Linked DNA regions of Homo sapiens. The protein of the gene in region 1 interacts with the protein of each later gene in a biochemical or structural test. Each region holds a gene or a part of one and is shown on either strand. Other genes may lie near its edges.

What was found.
Region 2: the proteins of TOM1 (region 1) and BBS4 form a complex in vitro, tested with the Homo sapiens proteins (one study listed by BioGRID).
Region 3: the proteins of TOM1 (region 1) and ZFYVE16 form a complex in vitro, tested with the Homo sapiens proteins (one study listed by BioGRID).

What each region holds. Positions count from the first base shown.
Region 1 is NC_000022.11:35,316,808-35,323,917, forward strand, and holds part of TOM1 (target of Myb1 membrane trafficking protein), read left to right. Parts: intron 1-1,069; coding exon 1,070-1,154; intron 1,155-4,934; exon of another isoform or gene 4,935-5,040; intron 5,041-5,151; coding exon 5,152-5,230; intron 5,231-6,191; exon of another isoform or gene 6,192-6,220; coding exon 6,221-6,370; intron 6,371-6,688; coding exon 6,689-6,823; intron 6,824-6,960; coding exon 6,961-7,107; intron 7,108-7,110.
Region 2 is NC_000015.10:72,731,110-72,738,219, reverse strand, and holds part of BBS4 (BBSome complex member BBS4), read right to left. Parts: intron 6,916-7,110; coding exon 6,763-6,915; intron 6,666-6,762; coding exon 6,494-6,665; intron 3,108-6,493; coding exon 3,038-3,107; intron 2,396-3,037; coding exon 2,254-2,395; intron 1,459-2,253; coding exon 1,257-1,458; intron 743-1,256; coding exon 633-742; 3' UTR 1-632.
Region 3 is NC_000005.10:80,445,983-80,453,092, reverse strand, and holds part of ZFYVE16 (zinc finger FYVE domain-containing protein 16), read right to left. Parts: intron 5,068-7,110; coding exon 4,689-5,067; intron 3,503-4,688; coding exon 3,380-3,502; intron 2,663-3,379; coding exon 2,507-2,662; intron 1,609-2,506; coding exon 1,384-1,608; intron 1-1,383.

The DNA.
Region 1 (7,110 bases):
ACCACTTGCTGAGTGTTTATTTTGGGCCCGTACCGTGCTGATACCTTGCCGTGCTGATACCTTACTGTGCTGGTACCTTGCATGAATCATCACCTCTCTTTGGGGTAGTTCTGCTGGGTGGCTCGGCATCGGTCCCTTCTGTGGGTGCCTCAGAAGGGTACAGGAGGGCCAGGTGACCTGTTAGTAATGGAGCGTTTGCTTCCTAGGTAAAGAAGCTCTCTGTGAGATTCTAGAGGAACCTGGTTACAGGGGATGCCTCTAGGAAGAGGGGGCTGGGGCAGGGGACAGAGATAGATTTACCTAGCTCCATTGTATACCACTTGAGAACTTTTACATTTTGTATCCTGTGAATGGTTACCAACTCAAAAGATAATTCTTTTTTGCTTGTTTGTTTGTTTGTTTTGGAGATGGAGTTTCGCTCTCGTTGTCCAGGCTGGAGTGTGATGGCTCAATCTCTTTGCAACCTCCGCCTCCTGGGATCAAACGATTCTCCTGCCTCAGCCTCCCAAGTAGCCAGGATTACAGGCATGTGCCACCATGCCCAGCTACTTTTTTGTAGTTAGTAAAGACGGGGCTTCACCATGTTGGTCAGGCTGGTCTCAACTCCTGACCTCAGGTGATCCACCCACCTCAGCCTCCCAAAGTGCTGGGATTACAGGCGTGAGCCACCGCGCCCAGCTCAAAAGATAATTCTAAAGTCAAGGGAGAACATCTTATCTACAGAAATGAAGCAAAGCACTGTCTCCATATTGTCATGTCAGGAATAAGCACACGGAGGCCCACCTAGATTCCCCTCTGGTGCATCCCTTTGGTGCACTCAGAGTCATGGTTTCCTCATCCATTGAAGAGCAGAGGTACTCCGGCCTCAGTGGCTACAAGAATCTAGTGACGATGGGACAATGTGTATAGAGCAGTCTCACACAGGGCCAGGCCCTGTGCCCAGGAAGTGTCTGTCATCTTCCTCCTCCCCATCTCATCCGGCCCTGCACCCCCCTCCTCTCCCACCCACGGTTTGAGTTTACCCATTCAGGACCCCCTCATGACTTTATGACTCCTGGTTTCTTCTCAGAGAAAGCCACAGATGGCTCCCTGCAGAGCGAGGACTGGGCCCTCAACATGGAGATCTGCGACATCATCAACGAGACGGAGGAAGGGTAAGGGCCCCCCAAGGAGAGGTTGGGGGCAGAGACGGCCATCCCACCACGCAGCACACTCCTGCACCCTTCCAGGGAGCCCCTGCCCCAGCCCCATTGCTGCCATAGCCACCAAGTCTGACCCAACCCGCTTGGCTGCAGAGGCCATCTGAGCCCCTAGTACCTGAGCCCCATCCAAGGTAGGAATTCACAGCTGGCCCCTGGGGGCTGCCACCCCACCCCGCCTCTCTTAGTGGCAGCCCAGATTCCACACGGATCTGGAAGCCCAGCCTTGTGTGCAGCATCTGCCTAGGATGAGGCAAGCTGGAGACTCTTAATCAGAAGTTGACCCCAAGCGCCATCTGCATTCTGCAGGCGGGAGTGTGTACTAGAGAGACTCCGGCTTTTCTGCGAGCAAAAACAGACTTCCATTTCCTTAAGATTTGAAACCAGCCTGGAGGGTAAGGGAGATCACAAGGATGGCAGGGAAAGTGAAGCTGAACCGTGAGCCTGAACAGCACTGGCGTTTGCCGGGCGTTTCTGGTGTTGGGGTCACGGTATCGTCTTGCTCAGTGCCAAGGAGCCCTGCCAAGGCACATGGTGTGGGGGAAGGATTGGGGTCTTGGCCTCCAATGTCTGACTCGTTGTCACTGACCAGCCGTGTGACCTTCGGAAGTCACTTTACCTCTCTAGGTCTTTGTCCTCGAAGGTGCTCTGTTAGATCCTTCCAGCAATAAGCCCGAGTCCCTGGAGGGAGCAGAAAGGGGATGCGAGGGTCCCTGTCCTCTCAGGAAAACCCAGCGAAGGCTGGGCAGAGGTGTGGGAGCCGTGGGCAGCAGGAAGTGCTGCCAGACGAGGCCTCCATCCTGAGAAATCAGTGTGGACCCTCCTTTCCCTCTCCAGTTCTCACTGGGATCATCCAGCTCTCCCGCGGCCAGTGCAGGGTTCCTCTCAGCCCGGGAGGGCTTTGCGTGGAGAGGCGCAGGCTGGATGCAGGTGGAGGGCAGGGAGTGCCCAGCTCTGAGCTGGAGGGAGGCTGTGGGCATCTGAGTCACACAGTCAAGGCCCAGTCAGGAGAGGGCAGTGGCTGCCAGGAACCTGCCGGTGTCTTCCTCAGCCCTGCTCCCTGATCTTGCCAAGGACTCATGAGAGTGAGGGTGAGGGAAGGAGTGGTGGGCAGAGGTCAGAAGAAAGAAAGCAGGAGGCAGAAAACCTCACCAAGCCTCTAGACAGGCCTGGGAGCTTCATGGACGTCGCAGCTGCAAGTCACTGCAGTATCCTTGGGGACAGCAAGCCCCCATGTCCCTTATAAACATGGGAGGAACAGGCTCGGCGTCGGTCAGGTGCATTGCTATTTATTTGAGCACTTTGTGTGTTCCAGGCAACACAGGAGGCACTAGGGACCCAGCAGTGATCAAAGGCAGGCATGACCCTTGACCTCACCAAGCATGGCACCTAAACTTAGCCTCGTTGCTAAAGTGTCTCCCCCACTGGGTTGTGGCCTCCTTGTCATACACTTTGTGCTCCCAGCAGAGTACCGGACATCATGGGCCCACAGCAGTGGCAAGGCCAGAACTTCCGATTCCCAGTGCTTCCCTCTAGGGAGAGAAGGCGTCCAACAAGGACGCTGTCCCTGCGCTCTAGGAGGCTTCTTCTCTCCCAGGGTGGGCCCCCAGGTCAGTGGCGCATGGCGGAACATGCCAGGGAATGATTCTGATTCCCTTGTGTCTAGGCCACCCTAGAAGAGGTGGAAAGAAGTCACTATAAAGCGCTGAAGTAGCCCGTGGGTCAGTGGCCAGGCCAAGACCAGGAGCCAGGGACGGGCGAGGGGCTGCCCAGGGAGGCAAGGGTTGGAAACTGCTCTCAGGCTTCTGGGCCAGGACCCCCCTTGGTGGGCCACCATCCCTTTCCCCACCGTGTCCCTTCCACCGCAGGCCTGACCGCCTCCATAGCTCTAGCCCCCAGGCAGGCTCTGTCCCTAGGAAGCCTTGCCTCTGCCTTCACTCCTGCTGAGAACCAGTGCCAGGGTTCCAGGCTCTCCTGCCTTAGTCCTGGATGGGGTCAGCACTGACAGCCAGGCAGACAGCCGGATGGGTCCCAGTGGCCACTGGCCAGGCTGAGAAATGTTACTTGTGCTTCAGTAGTGTGATGGGCTCTAGGAAGGGAAGCTGTCCAAAGAGAACACCATCCCTGCCCTCTAGCAAGCTTCTTCTCTACCCAGGGTGGGCCCCCAGTTCAATGTGGCATGGCAGAACAGGCCAGGGAGACTGGAGGACCTGGGAAAGTGTTGTGGAAGGGGTGGATTTTAGCTGAGGCTTCACCTCATGGATGTGGAGGTCAGGAGCCTTCAGGGTGCAAGTGGGGGCCCTGCACAAAGGCTTTTAGACAAGAGCAGTCAGGGCAGCACTGAGTATACCTGTATAGGGCCGAGGGTGGAGGATGGTGGGAATCACAGAGGGGACAGGGAGAGCAGGCTGGCACCCCAGCTTCCAGGGGCCTCCCAACACCGTGACCCCTAGGCTTCTTCAGCCCTCCCCGACCTCCCCCACACTCAGTGTGGCCTCCTCTTAGTTCCTCCAAGGCATCAAGCTCCTCTGCACCCAAGACCTTGGTCCAGGCTCTGACCTTGACCCAAACTGCTCTGCCCCCACTCCCCCCAGGTGGTCCTTCCCATCTTTCAAGGCCCAACTACAAGACCACCCCCTCGGAGGTCTTTTCTGACCACCCCCATCCTCACCTCTGCTCTTTTTCCAGGACCTGCTTATTCCTTGCTCTTCTTTGGATCTCCCCGCAAGGTGGGGAGGAGGCAGGGCCATATGGTCTTGTTTGCCACTGTGTCCCCAGCACCTAGCATGGTGCTACATACATATTGGGTGCTTAATAAGAGTTGAATGGGCCAGACATGGTGGCTCACACTGGTAGTCTCAGCGTTTTGGGAGGCTGAGGCAGGAGGATCACTTGAGCCCAGGAGTTCCGGGCTACAGCGAGCTGTGATTGCACCACTGCACTCCAGCCTGGGCGACAGAGTGAGACTCTGTCTCAGAAGGAAAAAAAAAAAAAACTTGAATGGAAGGGTAAATGGACAGATAGAGCAGCTGGCCAGGACGGGGCATCAGAACACTATGCTAGCTGGGCTCAGGGACTCATGCCTGTAATCACAACATATTGGGAGGCCGAGGTGGGAGAATCATTTGAGCCCAGGAGTTTGAGACCAGCCTGGGCAACATAGCAAGACCCCATCTCTATTTTTGTAATGAAAACATTATGCCTCCAGGTTATTTGTTCTTAAACTTGAGCATGCATAAGAAACCCTTGGGGAGCATGAGAAGCATTCAGATTCAGGGGCCCCACTCCCTGAGAATTTGGTTCAGGTGGTCTAGGGTGGGGACCTAGGGTTCTGCTTTTTTTTTTTGAATGTCCTTTGTTTTTTTGAGACAGGGTCTCACTCTGTCGCCCAGGCTGGAGTACAGTGGCGCAATCTCGGCTCTCACTCTGTTGCCCAGGCTGGAGTACAGTGGCGTAATCTCGGCTCACTGCAACCTCTGCCTCCTGGGTTCAAGCGATTCTCCCGCCTCAACCTCCCAAGTAGCTGGGATTACAGGGTCATACCACCACGCCCGGCAAATTTTTGTATTTTTAGTAGAGACAGGGTTTCACCATGTTGGCCAGGCTGGTCTTGAACTCCTGGCCTCAAGTGATCCACCTGCCTCAGCCTCCCAAAGTCCTGGGATTACAGGCATGAGCCACCGCGCCCGGCCAGGTTCTGCACTTTTAACAAAACGCTCTCATCTTTTCTCAAAGTGACTCTGCTGCTGGAGGTCCAGGGGCCACAGGTTGTGAGTCCCTGCTAAGCAATGGGCTAGGAAGATTCTGATGTGATCAGAACCTGGCTGGATACACAAAACAGGTGGGGCACAGGGAGGATGGGCCAATAAGAACTGTTCCAACTCTCCAGGGTCTCTGGTGTTAGGTAAGGGGGCTCTATTCCTAAGCCCACCCTTTTTCTTGTCCTCCTTAGTCCCAAAGATGCCCTCCGAGCAGTAAAGAAGAGAATCGTGGGGAATAAGAACTTCCACGAGGTGATGCTGGCTCTCACAGTGAGTGCCCCATCTGTCTGTCCTGTGGCAGGACTACGGTCCACTGAAAGTCACCTCCCCTCAGACCCAGCAGGACTCCCAGCCTCCTCTGAGCTCCTCATTTGAGAGCTGGAAAGGTCTGTAGGCAACGCACTGTCCTGTCTACACTGCAGGCGGATGCAGAATGGCAAGAGGCCATTTGGAAAGGTTCTCCCCAATCCCCCAGCATGGGAACAGACGCTTACATCACTCCAGAACCACTGGCAGGGAGAGCCTGGGCCAAAGGACCTGTGGGTGACATTGAAGCTCAGTAAACCCAGGCCTCCGCGGGGGCAGGGAGGCCGGCTGACTGAGTTGGGTGCTGCTCGGCACTTTGGTGCTCTGGCAAATGAATGTAAAATAAATACCAGTGGCTGAGAACAGTCTTGCCCACACCACTGAACCAGCCCAGATCTCAGGGCGGCCAGACACACGTGGGCCTCCTAGCCGTCAGCATGGGTTTGGCTGGGGAAGATATAAATGCTGTCCCACCCTCCTCCACAAGCAGCATTTATATCCAGGTGAATTGGCTTAAGCAAAAAGCAAAGGCAATTCCTGCAGTGGGAAGTGGAGAGTGGGGAGGGAAGTTCAGTGCCTTTTCCCTGGGCCACAGGCTCACCAGTCGATTGACATCTCAGATGCTCCTTGATTTCCTCTTGGAGAGCCCCTTCTCTCTAGACCATGTTTAGCTCAGAGACAGCATTGGGATTCTGCGTGCACTGACGCCAGTCAGGGAAGGAAGTCCAGCCCACACACCATACCTCTGCCCACCCTAGGCCGTGCCCTCCAGTAAACAAGTCCCCCAGTCCTGGCATTGTCCCAGTCCTCCACATTCAAGGGTCTCACTCCAGGAAGTCCCATCTCCTCTCCCGGGCCTCCTCTCTGGGACACAGGAGGAGCCACGAGGGTGGGGGTTCTGAGCACCTCCTCTCCTCTGACCAAGGTGCTCGACGGCACCTCTCGGCCCTCCAGGTCTTAGAAACCTGTGTCAAGAACTGCGGGCACCGCTTCCACGTGCTGGTGGCCAGCCAGGACTTCGTGGAGAGTGTGCTGGTGAGGACCATCCTGCCCAAGAACAACCCACCCACCATCGTGCATGACAAAGTGCTCAACCTCATCCAGGTGAGTGCCAGGACAGGGCAGGGCACGGCCAGGAAGAGCTGTCAGTGCAGGAGCTTCCTGCCCAGTGGAGAGTCGAGGCCATCGTGTTTGTCCCAGGCTCCGCTTCTCATTTCGGGGCGTCTCGGTTGTCGGCTGGTGGGATGTTCTGTGGGGAGGGAGGCTTGCCAACTGCGTGCTTTGCTGTGGAGTGGGCAGGGCAGATGTAGTTAAAAAAAAAAAAAAAGCAGGGAAAGAATGTCTGTTCTCTGTCTGAGTGCCAGGTGGGCAGGCTCACAGGTGAGCTGTGGTTACCGGCTGTGTCCCCTTGTCCCCTCTCAGTCCTGGGCTGACGCGTTCCGCAGCTCGCCCGATCTGACAGGTGTGGTCACCATCTATGAGGACCTGCGGAGGAAAGGCCTGGAGTTCCCCATGACTGACCTGGACATGCTGTCACCCATCCACACACCCCAGAGGGTGAGAGAACTGCCGTACCGGGAACCAAGGGAAGGGAGGCAGGACTCATCCCCAGAGACATCACCAGGCTGGCCCCTGACTTCCTGGGCTCTTGATGTTCCCAGGAGCCCTCACTGATCCTGTTTTCCTCCCACTAGACCGTGTTCAACTCAGAGACACAATCAGGACAGGATTCTGTGGGCACTGACTCCAGCCAGCAAGAGGACTCTGGCCAGCATGCTGCCCCTCTGCCCGCCCCGCCCATACTCTCCGGTGACACGCCCATAGCACCAACCCCGGAACAGGTA
Region 2 (7,110 bases), on another chromosome or scaffold:
TTCTAGACTGACCCCTCTCAAGAACAAAATACAGGGAGGGACTTGTTCTGGATTCCCTTTGGGCAAATGCAGCTGCAATACTCAGCAGGCTTGGCCTCAACTTCCAGGGCTTTTGTTTTTTTTCTTTTAAATGTATACTATTAAAGTTGGATTATTAATCTAATATTTGTGTTTGCCTTGGGGACTAATAAACCTCACAACCTGAGGATCACCTCAGTTAAACCAAGGCTTTGTCATCACAGAGCTACTCAGCAGAGGTCTGTCTCAGCTGTTCCTTGAACTAAGGAAGGAGTCAGTCAGCTAGGAGAGAAAAGTCCTTTTGAAAGCAGACAGCATCATGTACCTTGCTGACTCAGCTACATACATAAGGCCTCAAGCCTTGCTGCCAGTTCTTAAAGGAACTGTGTTCTCTTTTCACTTTTCCTGGCTTATGGGGCAGTAGAGGGTTTCCGACCTCAAATGCCAATACCAGGTAGGTAGAAGGACCTTAGGCTCAACTGCTGGCTCCTCGTAATAACACACACTGTATTCTGTGGTGGGTGCCACTCTGCTCTGCCTGTGTCATGTCACCTTTCCTAATCCAGCACATCCTCGCCCAAGAAAACCCTATTTTGGGGTCATTCATTCTATTCTTATTTCTCTCTTATTTGTTCTGATGTTTCAGTTGGACTTGATTCCACCGCAGGCTCTGGCTCCAGAGGAAGAGATGGGGGCTTTGTGAACTGGGATGTTCCTCCAGCACCTAGTAACAAAATAAAAACTTGAATCCTCATGTTCCACAATTTCAGAAGAAATCATTCTTTTTTGCTGTTAGAGTTCAAGAGGAAACCCCATATTTTCTGGAACCAGTGGGACTGACCCATTAACTATAAGGGAAGACTATAACTGAGAAATAAAGCAACAGTCAAGTTTGCCTTCAATGAGTCACTGAAAAATATTTACGTGTCAACTTCTGATAAAGCAGTAAAAATTAAACATTGCATAACAGGATATACTTAATAACATATTGCTAAAATTGGAAAGACCAGTGTATAGACCATCCAACTAAGTCTGTGAGTAGCTGTTACCTACTACATAGCTCGCCTTAAGGAAACAAGTGCCAATTTAGCCACCCTGTGTTTTTTTTCTCCCCTTGTGGCCAATACTACGTTGGACATATGAGTCTGAAGAGAACCTCACTGAAAGCTATAATCTCTGCTGACAGACACATGTGGCTTGTACCTGCCAGGTCTTCATGGAGCTCTGTATGGTCCTACCTGAGGGGAGCGTCCTGTATGCAGCTGCTGAAGACATTGCCTGTCCTAGAGCTTGATTAGAGCCCAGAGGCTGCTGGAAACTGGCAGGTTTGCTGGTTGAAGTGGTCTGGTGCTTTGATTTGGGATCTTTAACTGGTTTGGTCCAGACCAGTGCCTCCCCAACCTGGAGAGCAGCTCCCAACTTCTGAGCCATCTCCACCATCTTGTGTCCACAAAGGAAGTAAAAGAATCAAAAGCGTGACTGTCAGAGACAAGCCAACCCACTTCTTTGGTCTTCGAGCTGGGGTTTTAGCTGAAATAGTGTCTGGTCGTACTAGCAGTTGAGGCAGGAAGTACTTATCAAACAGTAGAGATTACAGATTGCCTTTACTGGATGGCATGGTGGTTCACATAGGATCTCAAAACCCAACAATTCAAGCCTGGTGCATTACCGGGCCAAACAGTGCATTTCCTACAACAAGTGAAATAGGGCTGGGCACGTGGATCACGAGGTCAAGAGATCAAGACCATCCTGGCCAACATGGTGAAACCCCGTCTCTACTAAAAATACAAAAATTAGCTGGGCGTGGTGGCACGCGCCTGTAGTCCCAGCTACTTGGAAGGCTGAGGCAGGAGAATTGCTTGAACCCAGGAGGCGGAGGTTGCAGTGAACTGAGATTGCGCCATTGCACTCCAGCCTGGGCAACAGAGCGAGATTCCGTCTCAAAAAAAAAAAAAAAAAAAAAGTGAAATAGAAGGAAGCTACAGACAGACACAGACCTCAACTTTGATGAGTTGAATTAGCAATAACAACTCAGTAAGCCTGAATTTCCTTTTATTATTATTCTAGGAAAGTTTTTCTCAGGCTGTTATTAATTGATGAACTCATGCTGCTAGGAACATCAAAGCCAGAACAGCCATGAACGTGTAATACCTTGGATTTGGATGATCTGGGCTTGATTTTTAAAAGTCTCCTGAGAGCTTACTTATGACTCTTGGGAGCTAATAAAAGACATACCTCAGAGTCAAATTCCAGAGAGCTATTGTCCTTGAGTAGGCTGACTTTCTTCTCCATCTCCTGATATTGGGCCAGGGCGTTCTTCTTCTCGCCCTGGTTGTACAGCAGCACAGCATAGTTCAGGTTTACTAAAGGGTTACACCTGTGGCAGACAGAGATTCTATGGAGCTGGGGGCTCTGCAACAAATGGTCATTTAGAGATCCTTCTCATTACACAAAAACAAAACAAAACTGGTTAAGTAGAGATTTCTCCATTATGCAGCAAGGTAGGTACATACGTGCTAAGCAGACCTGTGGAGAAGAATCAAGGAGTTAATGGCCTAACAAGCAAAGCTGGTATTGGGACCAAATCTGGCATCTCAGCCCTCAACAGAGACTACCTAGGCCAGGGTTGAAAAAGGGATCTCTACCCTGCTGTCTAGAAGATGCCAGCGGAGTAAATCCTGGAAGAGTCAAGTTTTATCTTGAATTAAACAGCCCAGAGTCCCATCTGATATTCCAGCTAGCCCATAGCTATCAGCAACCCAAGCCCACTGCCAGTTCTGACATTCTCTAGCCTCCTGATTACTCAGTTTAGGACTGGAAACATTTTCTCAGAGTGTCAATTCCTGCTGAGCCACCACATACTTAGGAGACACATCCCTCCACACTGAGGTCTGCTATGTACTAATGCCATAGAGGAACAGCTGGGCTGACACAGGCAGCACCAATGCTATGTATGGCACCACCTCATGGCTTTGGAGAGTCCAACCCCCGCCAGTACCATTCTCAACAAAGTGCATACTTATCCAGGTGGACTGCTTCTGCGTAGGCTCTCTTGGCATTTTCTATATCTTCCAGATTGGTCAGAGCCACTGCAACAAAGAAAGCACTGCAGCTGGAGAGCTCAGCTTAGAAGACAAAAGGAGTATTAAAGACTACCCCCAAAGTAAACTTCACCCTGTCAGCTCATGGCACCAGAGTTTACTAAGTCAGCTTAGATACCTGGTGCTATCTTCAACCATCTCTTCTACAGTCAATCAGTTGCCAGGTTCTATGCATCCTTTTTTTGCAGTTTCTTTTCTGACACTGCCCTTGTTCAGGCCCAAGTAGTTTTAGGCTTTCCATTTATTCCCCAGTGTCAAAGTCCCCACCTGCCTCCATTCCACCTTCCACAGCGCTGCCAGGTATCTCACTGCCTTACAAATCTGACCACATTACCATCCTACTTAGGAATCCTCACTGGCCCCCCACATCTATAACCATGATCTTTACACTTTCATTTAGCAGTAAAACACTCCCCCCACTTTTTAAAATCAGTATTTCCTTGACACCTAATATATAAAACAAAAACAGCTGCTCTGGAAGCCCTGCCCATTCCACCTCCCCACCAGCTATGCACTCACTCCTACCAGGCACCTAAGAGGAGATCTAGGAAGACAGCTGGACAAACATGGCCTCTAAGATAAAGTCCTTGCACTGTACGCATGACCTCCATAATCTGACCCCAGAATATCTTTCCTGATTCATCTCCCATCATATTCTCTAACACTAACCCCCACTAACAGCAAGGGACACTGCAGTTTCATGGCTGCATGCCTTTCTTCACAGTGGCTCCTCAGCCATTCTGTGCTATTCCATTTTAGCTTGTTGTTCAGGATCCAGTTTGAATGCCATCTCTACTTTGTAAAGTTAGCATCGCTGTTATCTCTTACATTATGGCTGTTTACATTTCTGTGTTCCATTAGAACCCAGCTATCTAAAGAAACTATCAACACAGTAAACAGACAATGTACAAAATGGGAGAAAATATTTGCAAACCATGCAGGTCTAATATCCAGGATCTATAAGGAACTTAAGCAAATTTACAAGAAGAATACAATCCCATTAAAATGGGCAAAGGACATAAACAGACACTTCAAAAGAAGTCATGTATGCAGCCAACAAGCATATGAAAAACTCTATCACTGATTAGAGAAATGCAAATTGAAACCACAGTGAGATAACCATCTCACACCAGTCAAAATGGCTATTATTAAAAACTCAAAATATAACATCCTGGTGAGGCTGCAGAGAAAAGGGAATGCTTATACACTGTTGATGGGAGTGTAAATTAGTTCAACCATTGTGGAAAGCAATCTGGCAATTCCCCAAAGAGCTAAAAATACAACTACCCTTCGACCCAGCAATCCCATTACTGGGTATATGCCCAAAGGAATGTAAATCGTTCTGCCATAAAGACACATGCATGTGTGTGTTCAATGCAGCACTATTCACAATAGCAAAGATGTGAAATCAACCTAAATGCCCATCAATGGTAGACTGGATAAACAAAATGTAAATGTACACCATGGAATACGACACAGCCATACAAAAGAACAAGATCGTGTCCTTTGCAGCAACATAGATGGAGCTGGAGGCCACCATCCTTAGCAAATTAATAAAGGATAGAAAACCAAATCCTGCATGTTCTCACTATAAGAGCTAAATGATGAGAACACATGGAGACACAGAGGGAAACAGACACTGGAGCTTACTGGAGGAGGGGGAGGGCCAGAAAAAAATAACTATTGGGTACTAGGCTTAGTACCTGGGTGATGAAATAATCTGTACAACTAATCCCCATGACACACGTGCCTGTGTAACAGGATGCACATGTACCCCTGAACCTAAAATAAAATTTTTAAAAAAAGAGAGAGGAATGGAGTCTCACTGTGTTGCCCAGGCTGTACTCCCAACTCCTGGGCTTAAGCAAACTTCCTGCCTTAGCCTCCCAAGTAGCCAGCACTACAGGTATGTACCATCACACCCCACTTTAGCCTTTTTATTCTGATGTTTTGACATCTGGGGCCTTACTGACCCTGGGGAGACTGTCCCTCCCACAGTCAGCTAATTCCTAGATATAACCCCTACAAGAGTACCTTCTGTATGCAGACCGACCAACCCAGTGTTCATATTCTTAACTGCCTCCTTTACTGGGCCCTGACACTGGGCCAATATTCCCTAGTCCTAGTCACCCGAGGGTCAGGTACCAGACACCTAGAGACAGCCCTATAGCCCAGAGCCCACTGAAATTATTCAAACTGGCCAATCCCCAACCTGGTTAACCTGCTTTCCCGGTCTTGCCCCGGGGAGGGCATTTCTACCCATGAAAACTACAATAAAGAATTGTGCCCACATTTACCCCTTGCTCCCTCTACCTCCTGATTGACCTGGTGCTTCCCCATGTGGCCCTGCACGGTGTAGCATGCCCTCCTTCTCAGGAATTGTAACAGACTATCTTTCCAGTGGCAGATGTCTTCTGATCTGTTGCCCATACCATATCTGAATAATAATAAAACCTATGTTTTTTTTTTAAAGTTATCTTTGTATTCAGGCAACCCTCAAATAACCACAATTGCTTTTGCAAGCTTTCTCTTTTAAATAAGAACCCACAGTAATGAACAAAAAGCCACTGGAAGACGACTGCCAAATGAGGACATGGAAATCTGCTTTGGGTCTTACATTTAGTAAGTAAATGTATATGGAGAAAAAAATTCCTAGAAAGACTAGTCAGTACTTTAAAATGGTTGTGCATAATTGTTAAAGTGTTTGATTAATTTTAACTTATTTTTATGATCAATTTTAGTATTTGCATGGCATAAAATGGAGTTTCAGGAAGAGAATGGCATTCTATATAACATGCTCAGAAGAGATAAGGGTTTCAACATAAGGTAGCTTGACTTGGAAGTATCACCTAGGGGCCAATTATAGTAACAACAATATTGATAATAATAGACCAATTATATAACCACAGTAAAACCAACAGTTTTCAAAAATCAGTATTTCAACAAAACCAGTATTATTAATTGAGAGCTTAATCATGCAATCCTCACATCAGCCCTAGGTACATATAATAAGTAGTAGAGGCAGGACCCTACCTAAAACCCAAGCTCTTAACACTTGCTGTCTGGAACTTAGTTGGACTCAATATATACATAAATGAATTGTCAAGGCAAGAGGAAAAAACTGGTAAAAGGTGAACTAGGGATGATCTTTATTTAACCTGTTGGTCTCTGAGTCAAACTCCCCCAAGTTAGAAACAACCAAGTTCCTTTGTCATCTTTTTCTATTTCTTCAAGCTCCAGGACAGTAATCCAGATTCCTACAGGATCTCTAAGGGAATGGCTCCTATGAGACAGCCACTGATCTTCTATGATTCTAATCCATTTTTCCCTCATTACAGATGGCAGAGAGAGTTTTCCACATAAATGTTTCTTACCTGCCAAGAGCATGTAGAGCTCCCCCATCTTTGGCTGGAAGTTGATGGCCGCACTGAGAAAATGAAAAGCTGATGCATACTGCTGCATGGTCAAATGGACAAGGCCCAAATTATACAGAATCTTCCAATCAAAGGGTGCCAAGTAGTTGGCTCGTTTCAGGCAGCTGATGGCCTATGAGAGAGAAGGGGCACTCAATGAGAAGGGCAAGCTAAACAGACCCAATAACCACATGTAGAAATACAAACAAAGAACATGAGGGGACACTCACCGCCACATATTTCTTCTTGCCAAAGAAACACATTCCAATGTTATTCCAGAGTGGAGGACTTTCTGGAACAGCACAAGCCACAACTCTGTATTTGGTGAGGGCAACATCAAAGTCCCCGTGGGTCTGCATCATGCTGCCTGCTGCCAAGATGGCCTGAAAACATGGCACAGAGAAAGTCATTCAGTCATTCCCAAAAGGCTGTAGCAGTGGGGCAGCTTTCCTGAGTCTATACTCAGCAGGCCCATCAGCATAGATGGGACTGGAAAATTTCTTCCAGGGACATAAATATATCCAACCTATTGGGACAAATGTTCCTGAGGAATGTCCTTGCACTCTACACTGTGGCTC
Region 3 (7,110 bases), on another chromosome or scaffold:
AGCTTCTCAACATTTAATTTTCCTCCAAGAAAATCCCTACCAAATTATATTAGAATCAAATGTCTAAAAAGTTCATTAGACGTGATATACTTCAAATGCAATAAATATATTATTTCTTGAAAAAAGTCAGATAAAAGATACAGTGGGAATTCAAAAAAGTTTAACACTAGAAATGATTCTAACTCAGAAATAAGCATATATATAAACATCACAGCAGCTTTAGAATCACCAGTTGTGTCAAGGGTAGATAAGTAAATACACACACGTACATACACATGAATGATACAGGCTCTATCACCTTTGAGAGACAAACATCAGAATATAAAAATAAGAATCATCAAGCTTAGAAAAATAACCACAATTTTTAAGTACTTCCTTCCCTAAAAATAGTTAGCTTTTAATTATAGTGAGTAACTGAAAACAATAGCACTGCTAACCCAAAAATCCTTTATGTCTGGCTTTATGATATAGAAAAATTGAGAGACGCAACGATTTATCTTCTTAATATGCAGGCAACATAACAAACTCCCAATAGTATATGCTTTTAAGAAAATTTTAGCAAAAGTAATTAACACATATCGAACATCCCAAATCTAAAAACCTGAAATCCAAAATGCTCTGAAATCTGTAACTTTTTTTTTTTTTTTTTTTTTTTTTTTGAGACGTAGTCTTGCTCTGTCACCCTGGCTGGAATGCAGAGGCATGATCTTAGCTCACTGCAAATCTGCCTCCTGGGTTCAGGTGATTCTCCTGCCTCAGCCTCCTGAGTAGCTGCAATTACAGGCGCCTGCCACCTCACCCAGCTAATTTTTGTATTTTTAGTAGAGACAGGGTTTCACCATGTTGGCCAGGCTGGTCTCGAACTCCTGACCTCATGTGATCTGCCCGCCTTGGCCTCCCAAAGTGCTGGGAGTACAGGCGTGAGCCACCATGCCCGGTCTATAACTTTTTCAAATGCCAACGTGATGCTCAAAAGAAATGCTCACTGGAGCATTTCAGATTTTGAATTTGGGATGCTCAACTGGTATGTACTCTGTGAATATTCCAAAATCTGAAAAAGTCCAAAATCCAAAAAACTGATCCAATACATTTCAGATATGGCATACTCAACCTGCACTGTGAAAGTTTTCTGTTTTGTTCTGAAATTTAAGAAGAAAAGTTTTAGGTAATAAAAGAACTTATGAACATCTAGAAACTTGAAGACATACCACAGTTATCTAGACCAACCTGGTAGTAGAAGAGGGTTGTCTTAGAACTTTAAAAGCATAGCAAAACAAAAGTAGTTCCATTAATCCATTAAAATTGATTTTAATGATTCCCTGAAAGTCTTTACATTCAGTATATTTGAAAATATGCAATTTAACTTATTACTCTAAAACTTACCTTTATATTCTGCACCCAATCTCAACATTAAACGCATAGGAAAAACCTTTGCCCAGGGAATCTCAAGCTTCTGGATAAGAATTCCACAAAGAAAAGGATTACTTGGTAATGAGAGATCATCAAGTTTCTGAAAAGTAGGTGTAATAAACAGGAATCCTCCGTGATCCTTGCTACTGAGAAAACTCTCAGTAAAGGTAATATTGTCCAAGTTTTCTATGTATTTTCCTGCAAATAAAATCATTAGTAAAAAGATTTTAAGTTGTTTTGTTATTGTTTTGAAGAAATGTTCTTAGTTTGTCCAAAATCCAAAAAACTGATCCAATACATATAAACTGTCCCAATATAAACTGTCTGAAGTTAAGACACTATAGATTTTTTTTCTTATTTCTGTTCTTGCAAAAGCATCTATTAAATACCTTCTGTACACAAAGCTCCCAGTTATTCCTAGATATTGGGGATTATGAACAAAAATTTGAAAATGTTTCCAACCTTCCAATTTTTCTCCTTACGGCATGGTCAAGTGAAAAATTATCAAATCTCCTAGTCTTGTACAGACAGTAAGGAAATTACATAGATACACTGAAAAATCAAGGAGGCAGGCCAGGCACAGTGGCTCATGCCTGTAATCCCAGCACTTTGGGAGACTGAGGCGGGCGGATCACTTGAGGTCAGAAGTTCTAGACCAGCCTGGCCAGCATGGTGAAACCTTGCCTCTACTAAAAATACAAAAATTAGCTGGGCATGATGGCATGTGCCTGTAATCCCAACTACCTGAGAGGCAGAGGCAGAAGAATCGCTTGAACCCGGGAAGCAGAGGTTGCAGTGAACCAAGATTGTGCCACTGCACTCCAGCCGGGGTGGAGACACTGTCTCAAAAAAAAAAAAAAAAAAAAAATGGATATAAGGATATATTTCCATTTTTAAAATACAAAAATCTGCATAGACACTAATCACATAAAATGCTAGTTTTAAGGAGACAAAATAATTATTAAGCTATTTTCAGAAATCAGCAATCTCTTCACAGAAATAAATCTTTAGTATAGCTAGCACAGCCAAAACCATAAATGCCTTTAACTAATTTATCCATTCCCCAGTCTGAACAGTTCAAAATAAAATGCCATACCTTTTAGAGCATCCTTATATATGGTGATAAATAGTCTGAAGATGTCCTTAGGAATAGTATCTTCATTTGGCAAACATAACAATAGAATAATAATTTCTGCCTGTCCCAAGCCATGCAATCCATTGGTTGAAAAGTACCAATATTTGTCTGAGGAATCTTAGATGATAAAAGAATATAACTATTAATGTCAACTTCTATTAGTCAAAAAACTAAGAACAATTGTTTTTGCATTTAACATAACTTTTCAAATTCCTTGTGTTCCCAAAGTTCTCCTTATGAAAACCTTAAATTGAATTGTATAAGATTTATATAAAGTAAGAAAAAGGATTATCATAGGGAGCCAATTAATAAATAACACTAAAATAAAAGATGCACTAAATGCTGAAATGTAGTGGATAAGAATTTAGTTTCAAATAGAATGAAAAGCTGACAGATACATTATGGAGTAGTGAGGATTATTAATTATTAATGATTACTTCCTTTTTAATTAGGTCACATGTCACTTACTTTAAAACTGTCTTTATTGCTACTAAATCAGGGTTCCTGCTTATTTCAGTTACCAAATTTCAATTTATCTAAAAGCCACAGGAAATATAGTCAATTGTATCATGAGTATCAAAATACAGCTCAGTTATATAAGCCCATGACCTTAACCTAAGATTGACAGGGATGCTAATAAAAATCTGTAAGCTCATGTTTCAAGTCCTACTGAACATAAATTTGCAAAATTTATTTACAGTCATATGTGGCTGAAAAACCAATATCCAATCCTGCTTATTTTTCACCATGGCCAGTCAAAATCTAACCTGAAGATGTAATTAATTCAGAAATCCTGCTTACCAATTAAGCAAATAAGGATAAATTATTACTTACAAAATATGAATTTGACATTCACGAGTAGATTAGCATTTAGGACAAATGTAACAGGATGAAAGCTTTCACCTTCAAGAAGCAAAATGATCTGCTCATGAGATGGATGTTCTTCTACTACAGGCACTAAATGATGAAAGTAATATATTAATCAGGATAAATATCCTGTTAAATATGCTTACAAATGAAAAAAACAAATTTATAAATCCACCAGTGGCCTGATCAAATTTAAAAACAGAAGCAAACATGTTTCATAAAATCAACACCCCAGACAACTGTTATATACTAATTTTTACCTCTTTCCATGTAAAGTTACTAATACTGTAATGCATATATTACATATAGTATATTTATACTGTTGATTAAACAGCAAATGTATATAATTTTAGCACCTTCAAAGTTTGAAGACAAACGTTTTTATAAAGTAGATTCCAGTTTGGTAAGCACTCCATTTATAATTTTTGATATTTACAAGTCTATGAAAGTAGTCTAGAGCCACGTTATATATGCTGCTTGTTACCACATGCCTATATCAGCTACTTGCTACCATATGCCTATATCAGTGACCAGGTAGCAAAAAAAAAAAGATCTTGACAATCAATAGAAAGATATGCATGGCATACAAAGAATAGGGCTTACTATATTTTTGCCACTACAGCTAGGTTCATGTAATGGCTCCCACTGACAGAACAGAAATCCAAAGCTTCATTCCTCTACATTATCACGCAGAGAACCGCCATTTCATATTGCAGAATGTGACATAATGCCTGGAGTGACAAGTGTCTATCCTAGAAACCACTCTGGGGTGGGGGTTAGCCATAGAATCTCCTGCTTGAAAAGGACCTTAGAAATCATCTAGGTTCTATTTACAAAGGAAACTGGGGCCCAAGGAGATTAACACACTACAAGTCATAGATGTAAAAAGTAGCAGACAAGGAACTAAAATTCCTAGCTTTGCCATCCAATCTAATGCTCTTTTCTTTAGGTATCATGCTCCTAAAAAAAAATAGTAATAATACAGTGTCAAAATTCTAATACAATGGAAATATTTCTTCGGGCTAAAAGTCTATGAGCTTCCCTCATAGACTTAATCATTCGAAATTAGTGGGCCAGATGTGATAAATGGATCATAAAAGTTCAAATATTTTTAGAATTTGTTTTTATATAATAAGACTTTCTGTAAACAAAAGTTACCAGCCTTAGTACATATTGCAACCAAACTAAGTTAAAAAAATACATTTCATATGTCACAGATAAAATTCATCAGTATATATTTTTAAATCTTTTTAAATTTAAATAACTGCTTCCCTACCTGATCCCTTTTCTCCAGATGCAACCAGAAGTGGGGGCAAACTGTCCTCATCATTAGGTAGAAGACTAATCTTATTGCAGACATACTTGTTAATATCACACAGTAACCTATAATCTGAAATACTAGCAATAGGTAAATTGCTGTTAACTAAGACACCAGTAGGACTAGATGGTTCTTCAGTTTCTGCAAAAACATCATCATCTAGTGTAAATGAACCAGAAGTAGGTAACCCCTCATTTCCTGTGTTCATAGACAATTTTTCCACTGATGGAACCTGAGAAATAGGACTCTGAATTATCTCATTTCTTGTAATATCTCCTGTCTCATTGTTTGGCTTTTCCACTGTAGTAGAATGGGAATGATCCACTGTGTTTACTGTCTGTAAAATATGTAATAAAAAAAATAACAAATCAGTTCATATTCTCTGTTCAACTATGAAATGAGATCACTATAGCCAAACATATCTTTTTAATAAGAATAAATAAAAACCAAAATGCGTTCAGAAATTCTCTTAAAGTCAAATTTCCCAAGAAACAGTACCATTTTGATTCTTCAAATTCAGGAGCATAAGGAATTAAGAAGCATAAGGTTTTAGTTTTACTGCATGCTCAGGCAGGTATTAATGACTTAATATTAAGATTGGAAAAAATGAGGCAAGAAGAACTTCAAGATCCCATACCATATCACACAGTGAGCAAGCTTAGTTCAATCCAAGTCTCTCCCCTTCTTATGATAGCCAAAAACCCTTGGGTAGGCAGGGAGGAGGGACAAGGCAGGAAGAAGGGGAGGGGAGTGGTTAGGAAGCAGTGCGTTAGCTATATTCCACAAGAGTAACCACCTGGAAAAAACTACCCATAAAGACTATTTCAATAAAGCCTTTTTCTTTTTAGACTGTACAAAGTCAGTATTAAATAAGAACCATTTATGAACTCAATATTTACTAGCCTGTTGAGAATTTTCATTAATACAGATTGACAGTGCGTGCTAGCTAGGAAACATACCCATGGTAATTACGGCTATTTGTAAAGTCTAGCTCATGAACTCTTGACAAACAGCATATGTTTCTACCAAATGTAAATTTCAACAGAGCTGATAAATATTCATCTTTTCTCTCTTTTTTTTTTTTTTTTTTTTTTTTGAGATGGAGTCTCACCCTGTTGTCCAGGCTGCAGTACATTGGCGCAATCCTGGCTCACTGCAACCTCTGCCTCCTGGGTTCAAGTGATTTTCTCCTGCCTCCGTCTCCCCTAGTAGCTGAGACTACAGGCATGCGCCACAATACCTGGCTAATTTTTGTATTTTTTTTAGTAGAGACGGGGTTTTGCCATGTTGGTCAGGCGGTCTTGAACTCCTGACCTCAGATGATCCGCCCACCTCGGCCTCCCAAAGTGCTGGGATTACAGGCATGAGCCACCGCGCCAGGCCTAGTATCCATCTTTTCTAATATACGTACCCAGAATCGACCAGGTGACTGGCACAAAGTGATGCTCAATAAATCTATTTAATGCATAAAACATTACTAATTCATACATTAATAGTTGCTTCTATGAGTATGTGCCACTTTACAATGAGAATTCTTAGTGATCTGGATTCTATATTATATATCTTCTGTTTAACACCTAGCACATTTGTGTAAATGTAAGCATAAATATCACCATCACATACTTTCTTGAATGTTTGAAAATAACTAAATAGATATTAGTATAAATTAAATTACTAAATCTCAGTTACATTTCCCCATACCACTGGTTCTCAAAATGTGGTTCAGAGATCCCTGGGGTCCCCAAGACACTTTCAGGGAATTGGTGAGGTCCTAGAATTTTTTTCATATAATTTAACAAAAAAAATAACATATCAAAACACACAGAATGTAGAACCAGATGTGAGAATATGTTTGTCTTCTATTAAGCCAGACATTAAAGAAATTGGCAAAAATGTAAAATAATGCCATTATTCTCACTAAACTTTTGTTCTGAAAAAAATTTTTCATAAAATATTATTTCTGCTAATGTAATAGCCTTATTTTGTAATTAGTTAATAAATATTTTTTAAATTTCTGAATTTTAATTTTAATATAGTAATTATCAATAGGTACAACCCACGAAATCTATAGCACTTTAGGGTTCTCAATAAGAGTATAAAGGGGTCCTGAAGCTGAAAGTGTGAGAACCAGTCTCTTAAACTGACATTTAAAAAAGGTAAAATCTGGGCCAGGCACGGTGGCTCACTCCTGTAATAACCAGCACTTTGGGAGGCCGAGATGGGCAGATAACTTGAGGTCAGGAGTTTGAGACCAGCCTGGCCAACACGGTGAAACCTCGTCTCTACTAAAAATACAAAAATTAGTCAGGTGTGGTGGTGGATGCCTGTAATCCCAGCTACTCCGGAGGCTGAGGCAGGAGAATCACTTGAATCCGGGAGG